Linked DNA regions of Homo sapiens: region 1 is linked to region 2. Evidence: fine-mapped expression QTL. A gene starts in region 2. The other region holds a variant in brackets. All regions are shown on one strand. Distances are between the middles of the regions.

Evidence for each region. PIP is the estimated chance that this variant, and not a neighbour inherited with it, causes the effect.
Region 1: its variant is fine-mapped to the expression of KLF4 in whole blood (TOPMed, PIP 0.95).

Annotation. Positions count from the first base shown.
Region 1 is chr9:107,610,516-107,615,880 of GRCh38, reverse strand. The region is part of intron 5 of LOC105376205 (a long non-coding RNA gene); the gene reads right to left. Among named protein-coding and RNA genes, the nearest start is that of KLF4, 120 kb to the right of the region's middle. The variant A/G (reference allele first, on the strand shown) is at 3,343.
Region 2 is chr9:107,486,502-107,491,866 of GRCh38, reverse strand. It overlaps KLF4 (KLF transcription factor 4), which reads left to right and starts at 2,098. Exons shown (of 5, transcript NM_004235.6): 1 at 2,098-2,699; 2 at 2,817-2,937; 3 at 3,600-4,572; 4 at 4,675-4,839. The coding sequence starts at 2,695. RefSeq lists silencers at 1,817-2,026, 2,386-2,585, 3,237-3,286.

The DNA.
Region 1 (5,365 bases), 120 kb before region 2:
TGGAAAGAGATGCATTCCAGAATCTGGCAGAGCTGAGCTCCAAGTCTGGCTTCATCACTGTCAGCTGTTTGACCTTGGACAAATATCATAAACTCTCTGCACTTGCATCCTCATTTGAGCAATGGAGATGGCAATAACTCCTCCAACAAAGAGGCTCTGAAGGAGGCACTAAAATTACAGAGTGTGTCACTTTGCCCCTTGCCTCCTGTGGTTGGATGGCTTCTGTAAGTTTGCAGAACTTCCAAGAAGAGGTGGTTGAGTAAGAAAAATGGCTGTTTCAATAAATCTGATCAAGCTGGGTAGAAAAGCATGAACCAGCAACCGGATCTCTGATTAGAGGCTGGAGAGAAAAGGGTGTGCTGGGAGAACTCTCATCATGTGGGCCTCACAATCTATCTAACATAAAGCTTTCATAGCCAAGTTTCACAATTTCCCACCACATGAGCAAACTTCATTTGCCTTGATGAGGCAATAACTGTGTGCATTTATTTATATATTTCCCTTTTCCTCCTCTCCCCAGCCTCCTCACTAATCCACTTGGCCTTTTTCTCAGGCCCTGCTTCAATCTTTCTCCTTCATAGCCTCAGAAGCAGTAAAGTTGTGTAGGGTTTGGGGGCTCAAGTCCTCGGTTCAGATACCACCTTCCACCTCCTGACTGCATGACCTCCACTTCCATGGGCCTTCGTTCCCTCTGCGTGGGGGTTATTCACTCCAGCCTGGGGGTGGGGGCTGCTGTCAGGATCAGTGTGCTATCTCACGGATGATATGGCAGGTGCTTGTGGATCATAGTTTCTCTCTTCCTCTGTGTGGGGAGGGAATCCAGCCAGAAGCTCAAAATGGATTTGTTTTGTTTGTTCAGGAATTAGGGAAAGTGAGAAACTCCCAGACCCAAACCAGTCTTGAACTGAAGTCTGGGAGTAGGGAAAGCCCTTTACTGCAAACACCTGTAGAAACATCCTGGTCTTTTACAAGCCTCTGGCGCCTTCCGCCAGGGTTGTGAGACCGATTGAGTTGGAAGGGCCAGCACCTGTGCACTCGGTGGCCCAGTGGCTCTCCATTCCTCTCTGCCTGGCTTTGCCCTGAACCCCCAGGTCAATTCAACCCAAACCATGGGTAAAGCAGAGCTCTAACAGAGAACGATCAGCGGAGATTTGTGACAGGGCTCTTGAAGGACAGTGTGGCAGGCTGGCCGGCCAGGTGCCCATTCACAATGTGTGAGTGCCCCACGCTCCAGGGCATGTCACACCATGCCCAGCCTCACAAGCACTGGGACCCTGAGAGAGTGTCCAGGGTCTTCTTCAGTCCCATCAGTCCTTCTCAGGATGAGGAGAGGAGGAGGAACTGCTGAGTGGCCCTGGACAGCTTGCTTAGAACCTGTGTGGTCTGTGATACGACATGCCATGCTCTTTTGCAGGCATTTTCATTTTACCTTTCCCTTACAAGGTAGACCCTGTTAGGCCCATTTTACAGATGAAGAAACTGAGGCCCAGGGAGATGTGAAGTGTTCAAGTGAACTTAGCTGGACAATAGCAGTTCCAGTTTTCTAATCTGTGTCTGGCTTCCTATCCAATGGCCTCCCTACTCCCCAGGAGCTACCAGACACTCAGTTCAATGATCTGTAATTTTTCAGTCCTTCTCCAAGTTTTCAGTGTCCTGGGCCCAGCTTAAAGGGCAAACGGGATGAAGAACGAGGTGCCAAGCAACAGAATATGCTTGCTAGCAGGTGATTTGGGGTTTCCTTCTGCATAGTCATGGGGCAGGAACACCCAGTCTTTGCCCATGGTAGCAGTGGCCAGGGCTCCTAGAAGTCATCCCAAAGCAGAAGACAGCACATGAGTAGTCCCCATCAATTCCTGAAATACCTTTAAGTCCCAAAGTTCACTAGTTGTCAATGACAGAGTCTCACATCTAGGAAACACCCATCACATAGCCAGCTTAGGCAAAATGAATGCCTTTCAAAGGCTATAGTACTAGCAGAGAAAAAAAACAAAAAAACTGAGCAAATGTGGCTTGGGTCTGTAGCCAAAATCCAATGTTAAATAACAGGCTGGGGGTGGGGAAAGAAAAGAAATAATTCATCAGTAGAATGATACAGGCAGTCCATGGGTATCACCAGAACTGCATTTTCTCACCATATAGAGTGGTTGTGTAATTTCCCCCATTTCTCTGTCAATAAGGGGCTAGTGCTATCGGTGAAATAATTTACAACCCAATGTGCTCCACTGTAAATGGGTGCTATGTTTACTGGCTGTAAAAACACCTCTGAACACACTGACCTTCAACAGGTGAGCCCTTGAGTTTATAGCACTGAAGAATTGTTTTACTGCCTCAGCACAGGCAACAGGCATGCTGGACACCTGTTGGGGGTGAAGGGTAGGGAATCAAGCCCTCTGGGGATTCAGGGAAAGGAATCCTAAGAACAAGCTGCCCCCAGTGTGAGCCAACCAGATCAAACAAACCTCCAGGTGTCTGGTCAGTGCTGGGTCCATGGTAAGCATCTGAGTCTTGGATGAACCCACTAAGCAAGTCCAGGCTAGAGACTGAGGCCTGCAGAGCACTTCCGGAATTGGAGAACCCTATGGAAGGCCAGTAGGATGGAGTCCAAGGCAGATCCTGAGGGAACTCCAAGCACTGAGCTGGGGGAACCTAAATAAATTGGTCAATATGAGGGGCAGGAGCAAGAGAAAGACCGAAGATAGGAATTACAGCCAAAGGCCCAATGTTGAACGAGTCTAGAACCCAGGCAAAGCAAGTTTTCTGCAAATAATTCATGAACCAAAGAAGCAGAGCCTCTGCCTTTAATGACGGCCACCAAAAGGTACGTGGGTGAATAGAGCAGACAGAAAAGGATAGGACTGGGGTGAACAAAAATGTTATTCTGGCCAGGAGCAGTGGCTCGCGCCTGTAATCCCAGCACTCTGGGAGGCCGAGGTGGGCGGATCGCCTCAGGTCAGGAGTTCGAGACCAGCCTGGCCAATATGGCAAAACCCCATCTCTACTAAAGCTACAAAAATTAGCCAGGGGTGGTGGTGCATGGCTATAATCCCAGCTACTCCTGAGGCAGGAGAATCGTTTGAACCTGGGAGGCAGAGGTTGCAGTGAGCCGAGATCATACCACTGCACTTCAGCCTGGGCAACTGAGCGAGACTCTGTCTTAAAAAAAAAAAAAAAAAAAAAAAAAAGGTTATTTCTTTCTCACCCTTCAGCTTGCTCTGGAAAGGTTTTTGTTTTTCCCATCCACGCCTTAGTATGGAGGTTTCAGAGAGGCCCCCATGGGGAGCACACTTCCCCAAAAGCCAATTACCAAAATGGCCAGAAGGATAAATGTGCCAGCCTCAGCCC[A/G]GCATATATTCTTTGAGTCTTCACCAGAAAGCTAAAGTGGCATTTGACAAAACCTCTGGAGTGTTTCAAACTATGTTATCAGGCCCAAATCCTGATGACAGACAGAAGAGTATAAAAGAATAAAGATTTCCCAGATGAAAAGCACGCTTGGAGGGTCCTGAGCCCTTGCAGGCAGTGACGAAATCAAGGGCTGCATGCAGTTTGTTCACATGAAGAGCCCTGGAAGAAGGCTTCACACTCAGCAAGCGCCCTGGCCAAATGAGGAAGAGCCAAGCAGGCTGGCCTGAGGTTGCTCCATACCCTGGGCCTCTGGGGAGAAATCAGAGGAAGCAAACCGTTGTGTCCACACCAAATGAGAAACCTAGTGATTTTCATTCCCGGTGTTTTTAATTTTGTGCCTTTGAAGATCATCTTAATTTTTTAATTAAAAAAAATTACAGTTGATGACCTGCCAGTTCTTCACACACACAATTATCATTGAAAGCCAAGGGTCCCCACCTTTTTGCAAATAAACAGGCAGAATAATCTGTGAGAAGACCTCACGGCCAGGCAAGGTGGCTCATGCCTGTAATCCCAGCACTTTGGGAGGCCAAGGCAGGCAGACCACATAAGGCCAGGAGTTTGAGACCAGCCTGACCAACATGGCAAAACCCTGTCTCTACTAAAAATACAAAAATTAGCCATATGTGATAGCTCATGCCCGTAATCCCAGCACTTTTGGAGGCCAAGGTGGATGGATCACTTGAGGCCAGGAGCTTGAGACGAGCCTGGGCAACATGGTAAGACCCTATCTCTACTAAAAATACAAAAATTAGCAGGACATGGCGGCACACGCCTGCCACCCCAGCTACTCCGGAGGCTGAGGTATGAGAATCGCTTGAACCCAGGAGGTGGAGGTTAGCCAAGATCATGTCACTGCACTCCAGCCTAGACAACAGAGTGAGACTCTGTCCCCCCTGAAAAAAAAAAAAAAAGCCAACAGGTTGCTGGGGTTGGGGAGGGGTCCTTCATTCCTGTCTCTGCTCTCCCTACTGCACACATGTACAGGTGCAAACACACACTCACACGCACACACAAATACACCCCTACAACTCCCCAAACAAGACTTGTTCACCACCATAACCCAGCACCTAGCACTGGGGCAGGGATAGTGCAGCCACTCAGTGAATATTTGGCAAATAAACTGATTAATATATAAGGATATAAGAGAGCTAGAAACCAGACATGCAAGGAAGGGAGAGGAGAAAGAGTGACAAAGTGGGGGTGGCTTGGGATCCCACCCCCAGACGGTTCATCCATCTATTGGCAATAACAAGCCCTAGCATAACACCCTTCAGATTATAAAATCCAGACGCATCTCACATCACTTTTGATTCCCACCACTCCCCCTACTCCCAGGAGGTAAGGATCTTTGTGCTAATGCTAGGAAAAAAACTGAAGCAGAGGAAAGGTCTACTGGTTTGTTCAAGGTAGGAAAGAAAACAAAGCTAGGAACTAAAACTTCTGAAGTCAAAGCTTGGGCTCTGGGCCATGCACAGTGGTTCACGTCTATAATTCCAGCACTTTGGGAGGCCGAAGTGGGCAGATCGCCTGAGGCCAGGAGTTCAAGACCAGCCTGGGCAACATGGTGAAACCCCATCTGTACTAAAATTACAAAAAATTAGCTACTTGGGATGCTGAGGCAGGAGAATCTCTTGAATCTGGAAGTGCCTGTTGCAGTGAGCAGAGATCGTGCCACTGTACTCCAGCCTGGGCGACAGAGCAAGACTCCATCTGTGATGGTTAACGCTGAGTGTCAATTTGATTGAATTGAAGGATGCGAAGTATTGGTCCTGGGTGTGTCTGTGAGGGTGTTGCCAAAAGAGATTAACATTTGAGTCAGTGGGCTGGGGAAGGCAGACCCACCCTTAATCTGATGGGTATAATCTAATCAGCTGCCAGTAAATCTAAAGGAGGCAGAAAAACATGAAAACGTGAGACTGACTAGCCTCCTAGCCTACATCTTTCTCCCTTGCTGAACGCT
Region 2 (5,365 bases):
CCGACTCTGGATCTTAGAGGGATTCCTGGCGTTGGCAGGGAGGGCCGAGTCAATTCATTCGGGGCGAGATGCATTCCAAGAATGCTTCTGTGGTCGGCGAGGAGTGGAAAAATCAGGTATCACAAATATTCTGAGGAAACCTAATAGGTACCAGAATCGCAGGGTTCAAACAGGTGACAACGACAAAGGACATTGGCAACTAGAACTCAAAAAGGGGTGAGCGCACTCTCTGCCCGGTGCCCGAGCTTCCACCACTTTCCCCAGTGTCCCCTCTCTTCTCTTTCCTAGGTTGACACCAGCCTAAGCGCCAGCGTTCGCCGGTGAGGGGGCTCCGTGGAGAGGGGGGCGGAGTCCCGCGCCGAACGCCGGAATCCAAAGTAAACACCTCGCCAAACCTACGTTTAGAAAGTGATACCGAACACCACATTCACGTTTTAAAAAAAAATACTGTTTGCTAAGAAGATGAGAGCAAAACATTTCCCAGCTGGAAAATTACTGATCACAAACCAAGGGGAGAGTGGGGGTGGGGGAGGCAGCGTTATAAGATTGAAGTAAAGATCGCCGTTTCCTATTCCCTTCCCGGTGGGCAAGGACGCCTGCGGCGGGCTCGGTGTGCACTTTTTGAGAGCTAGGATCCCACCGCATCGCTCCACTTCCTGGCACATGGTCACTTCCCAGGGAAGTCCCTTTAGGGGGGCCTGACCTACCCGGAGCCTGAGCCGAAGGAACGAGTTGTCCTTTGACCTTTACTGGCCATTTCACCTCTTTATGACTCAATTTCTCATCCATAAAGTGGAAAGGAGAGTGCGTGGCTTGAAAAGTCATCAGTGAGTGTTTAATTCTTCTTTAATGGGTGTCTTCTATTATTATTATTATTCTACAGTGCAATTTAGTCATCAAATATTACAGGCAGTGGCTCACGCCTGTAATCCCAGCACTTCGGGAGGCCGAGGCAGGCTGATCACTTGAGGTCAGGTGTTCGAGACCTGCCTGGCCAACATGGTGAAACCCCGTCTCCACGAAAAATACAAAAATTAGCCGGCGTCGTGGCGCACGCCTGTAATCCCCGCTACTCGGGAGGCTGACGCAGGAGAATCGCTTGGACGCAGGAGGCGGAGGTTGCACTGAGCTGAGATCGTGCCACTGCATTCCAGCTTGGGCGACACAGCGAGACTCTGTCTCACAAAAAAAAAAAAAAGAAAGAAAAAAAAAGGAAAGGGCTTCGAGATGGCTGGTTGAAAACTGTCTCCGCGCCTCACAGTCCCTCTTCTCTCCCTTATGCCTCTGAGTAAATCTTGAGCCCTTTCACTCCCTTTCTCGCTATTTAAAGTATCAAAACCATAACTCCCCATTCGTGCCTCTTTCCGCCTGTTCCCGGCGGAACACTCCTCTGGCCTTCTCTTGAGGCTCCCAGTTCACGCTGCACAGTGCTGGGCACTGCCTCCTCTCCACACCCCTAGCGCCCCCCACCCCTCAGCAGAAGGGCCCGCGAGGAACCGTGCGAGGTCAGGCCGAGCGCCGGCACCGCCACCGGCACTGGCGCTGAGCGACGAGAGCGGACTCCTGCGAGCGCAGAGAGGGAGGGGGAGATGGAGGGCTGGATGAGTCACGCGGATAATCGCGCTCTTCTCCAGCGCGCAGACAGCGCGGCAAGCGCGTATGCTAGCAGGGGTGCGGACGCGTGACCGTGCCGCCCGCTGACCCCACCAGTCTTCGCGGGCTTCGAACCCAGGGAGCCGACAATGGCGGTGAGTACGGCCCTGGTCGCGCAGCGACCGAACCTGCGCCCGGTTCCTCGCGCCCCGCGCTGGGGCGGACGCCGCCGCCGCCGCCGACACCACTGCCGCCGGCGTCAGCTCGGCTCCAGCCCGCCAGCTGCCTGGCTGGCGTCACGGCCCGGCCCAGCCCCGCCCGCGCCCCTCCTTCCCCTCCCCCGCCCCCACGTGCGCCGAGTTTGTTGATTTAGCTGCCATAGCAACGATGGAAGGGAGCCTCGGGGGGGGCGGAGAGAAGAAAGGGAGGGGCGGGGCATGGGAGAAGGCGGAGGAAAAGGCTGTAGCGAAGGAAGTTATAAGTAAGGAACGCGCGCCGGCGGCCGGCAGTTTCCCGACCAGAGAGAACGAACGTGTCTGCGGGCGCGCGGGGAGCAGAGGCGGTGGCGGGCGGCGGCGGCACCGGGAGCCGCCGAGTGACCCTCCCCCGCCCCTCTGGCCCCCCACCCTCCCACCCGCCCGTGGCCCGCGCCCATGGCCGCGCGCGCTCCACACAACTCACCGGAGTCCGCGCCTTGCGCCGCCGACCAGTTCGCAGCTCCGCGCCACGGCAGCCAGTCTCACCTGGCGGCACCGCCCGCCCACCGCCCCGGCCACAGCCCCTGCGCCCACGGCAGCACTCGAGGCGACCGCGACAGTGGTGGGGGACGCTGCTGAGTGGAAGAGAGCGCAGCCCGGCCACCGGACCTACTTACTCGCCTTGCTGATTGTCTATTTTTGCGTTTACAACTTTTCTAAGAACTTTTGTATACAAAGGAACTTTTTAAAAAAGACGCTTCCAAGTTATATTTAATCCAAAGAAGAAGGATCTCGGCCAATTTGGGGTTTTGGGTTTTGGCTTCGTTTCTTCTCTTCGTTGACTTTGGGGTTCAGGTGCCCCAGCTGCTTCGGGCTGCCGAGGACCTTCTGGGCCCCCACATTAATGAGGTAGGTGAGGCGCGCGGCGCTGGGAGCAGGGAGGGGTGAGGACCGGTGGGACGCGCCGGAACGACGGCCGAAAGCCGCCCCTGACTCTCCTGTCTCCGCTCCCTGCCTTGCTCGCAGGCAGCCACCTGGCGAGTCTGACATGGCTGTCAGCGACGCGCTGCTCCCATCTTTCTCCACGTTCGCGTCTGGCCCGGCGGGAAGGGAGAAGACACTGCGTCAAGCAGGTGCCCCGAATAACGTGAGTATCGCTCCGGGCCGCCGGGAACGCCCGGTGGGTTTTCGTGGGTGTGGTGGGGGCGGGCGGAGCCTTGGGGTCACCAAGAGCCACTGAACGAGGGTAAGGAGCGGCCACCGCGCGGACTCCGCAACCTTCCCGGGATAGCTTCCGTGTCCTTGGCTCAGCTGTGTATGCCCGTGGTGCGAGCACTGCGGAGCCGCCTGGGGCGCAAGCCGGGTCTTCACCAGTCCCCGGGCGCGCTGTCGGTAGGGCGGGCGCTCTCGGGCCACCGGGCGGGAGGTGGCCGCGTCCCCAGACACTGGCTGGGCCAGAGTGAGTTTAGCGCGTAGGCGGCCCCGTGGCGAGAGCGCACCGAGAGAGCCTCGGTGTGCCAATTCCGGGGACGTCCACGGGACCTGGAGGGGGAGGGACCAGCCGCGGCGCTCGCTCACACGCAATTGGGCAGACAGGACATAACACCCGCAATACAGACGCATCACCTCTTCTTCGACCCGGGAGTGGGCCGAGATTGCAGCGCTGGCGCCCTGGGTTCCCGGGTGCTTCCTGCCTGACCAGTCCCCATGTCTGGGCGGTGCAGTCGCGCGTGGCCCGCCAGCACGTCAGTATGTCGGGTGGCAACAGGGGACCACCACTGACAGGTCTCTCCCGCCCTGTCCCCGCAGCGCTGGCGGGAGGAGCTCTCCCACATGAAGCGACTTCCCCCAGTGCTTCCCGGCCGCCCCTATGACCTGGCGGCGGCGACCGTGGCCACAGACCTGGAGAGCGGCGGAGCCGGTGCGGCTTGCGGCGGTAGCAACCTGGCGCCCCTACCTCGGAGAGAGACCGAGGAGTTCAACGATCTCCTGGACCTGGACTTTATTCTCTCCAATTCGCTGACCCATCCTCCGGAGTCAGTGGCCGCCACCGTGTCCTCGTCAGCGTCAGCCTCCTCTTCGTCGTCGCCGTCGAGCAGCGGCCCTGCCAGCGCGCCCTCCACCTGCAGCTTCACCTATCCGATCCGGGCCGGGAACGACCCGGGCGTGGCGCCGGGCGGCACGGGCGGAGGCCTCCTCTATGGCAGGGAGTCCGCTCCCCCTCCGACGGCTCCCTTCAACCTGGCGGACATCAACGACGTGAGCCCCTCGGGCGGCTTCGTGGCCGAGCTCCTGCGGCCAGAATTGGACCCGGTGTACATTCCGCCGCAGCAGCCGCAGCCGCCAGGTGGCGGGCTGATGGGCAAGTTCGTGCTGAAGGCGTCGCTGAGCGCCCCTGGCAGCGAGTACGGCAGCCCGTCGGTCATCAGCGTCAGCAAAGGCAGCCCTGACGGCAGCCACCCGGTGGTGGTGGCGCCCTACAACGGCGGGCCGCCGCGCACGTGCCCCAAGATCAAGCAGGAGGCGGTCTCTTCGTGCACCCACTTGGGCGCTGGACCCCCTCTCAGCAATGGCCACCGGCCGGCTGCACACGACTTCCCCCTGGGGCGGCAGCTCCCCAGCAGGACTACCCCGACCCTGGGTCTTGAGGAAGTGCTGAGCAGCAGGGACTGTCACCCTGCCCTGCCGCTTCCTCCCGGCTTCCATCCCCACCCGGGGCCCAATTACCCATCCTTCCTGCCCGATCAGATGCAGCCGCAAGTCCCGCCGCTCCATTACCAAGGTCAGTCCCGGGGATTTGTAGCTCGGGCTGGGGAGCCCTGTGTGTGCTGGCCCCACTTCGGGACACACGGGATGATGCTCACCCCACCTTCTTCACCCCTAGAGCTCATGCCACCCGGTTCCTGCATGCCAGAGGAGCCCAAGCCAAAGAGGGGAAGACGATCGTGGCCCCGGAAAAGGACCGCCACCCACACTTGTGATTACGCGGGCTGCGGCAAAACCTACACAAAGAGTTCCCATCTCAAGGCACACCTGCGAACCCACACAGGTAGGGGGACAAACTGCAGAAGGGAGGGGGGTTAGCTTCCAGCCCCATAGGCTACCAGTGGACACTCCTCAGTGCCTCCTTGACTTCCCAGGTTAGCTTCCAGCCCCATAGGCTACCAGTGGACACTCCTCAGTGCCTCCTTGGCTTCCCAGGGCAGTCTATCGCCTTGATCTCCGGGATCACTGGAGAGAACAGCAAACCGGCGCCTACTTTTCTGCCCAGGAGCCTTTTGCTTGATGGATGGTATCTGTGTTTGAATGTGCAATTTTGTTAGGCTTTTAAAAGGCAGGAGATTCCCCGCGGTCTGTGGGCCTCTCCTAGCTTGGCATTATAATCAAGAAATTATACTTTGCTATGCAAAAGCATGATGGCTTTTTTAAAAAAATCGTTTTTTAATGTTCCCTTCCCAGGTTCACCCTCCCTTTTTGTTATTTTGAATTCTGGTCGTAACAATTCGGTCTTACTTTTTTATTTTTTATTTTTTGTTCGTTTTGATTTACATTTTTATTTTTTTTCCCCCACAAGC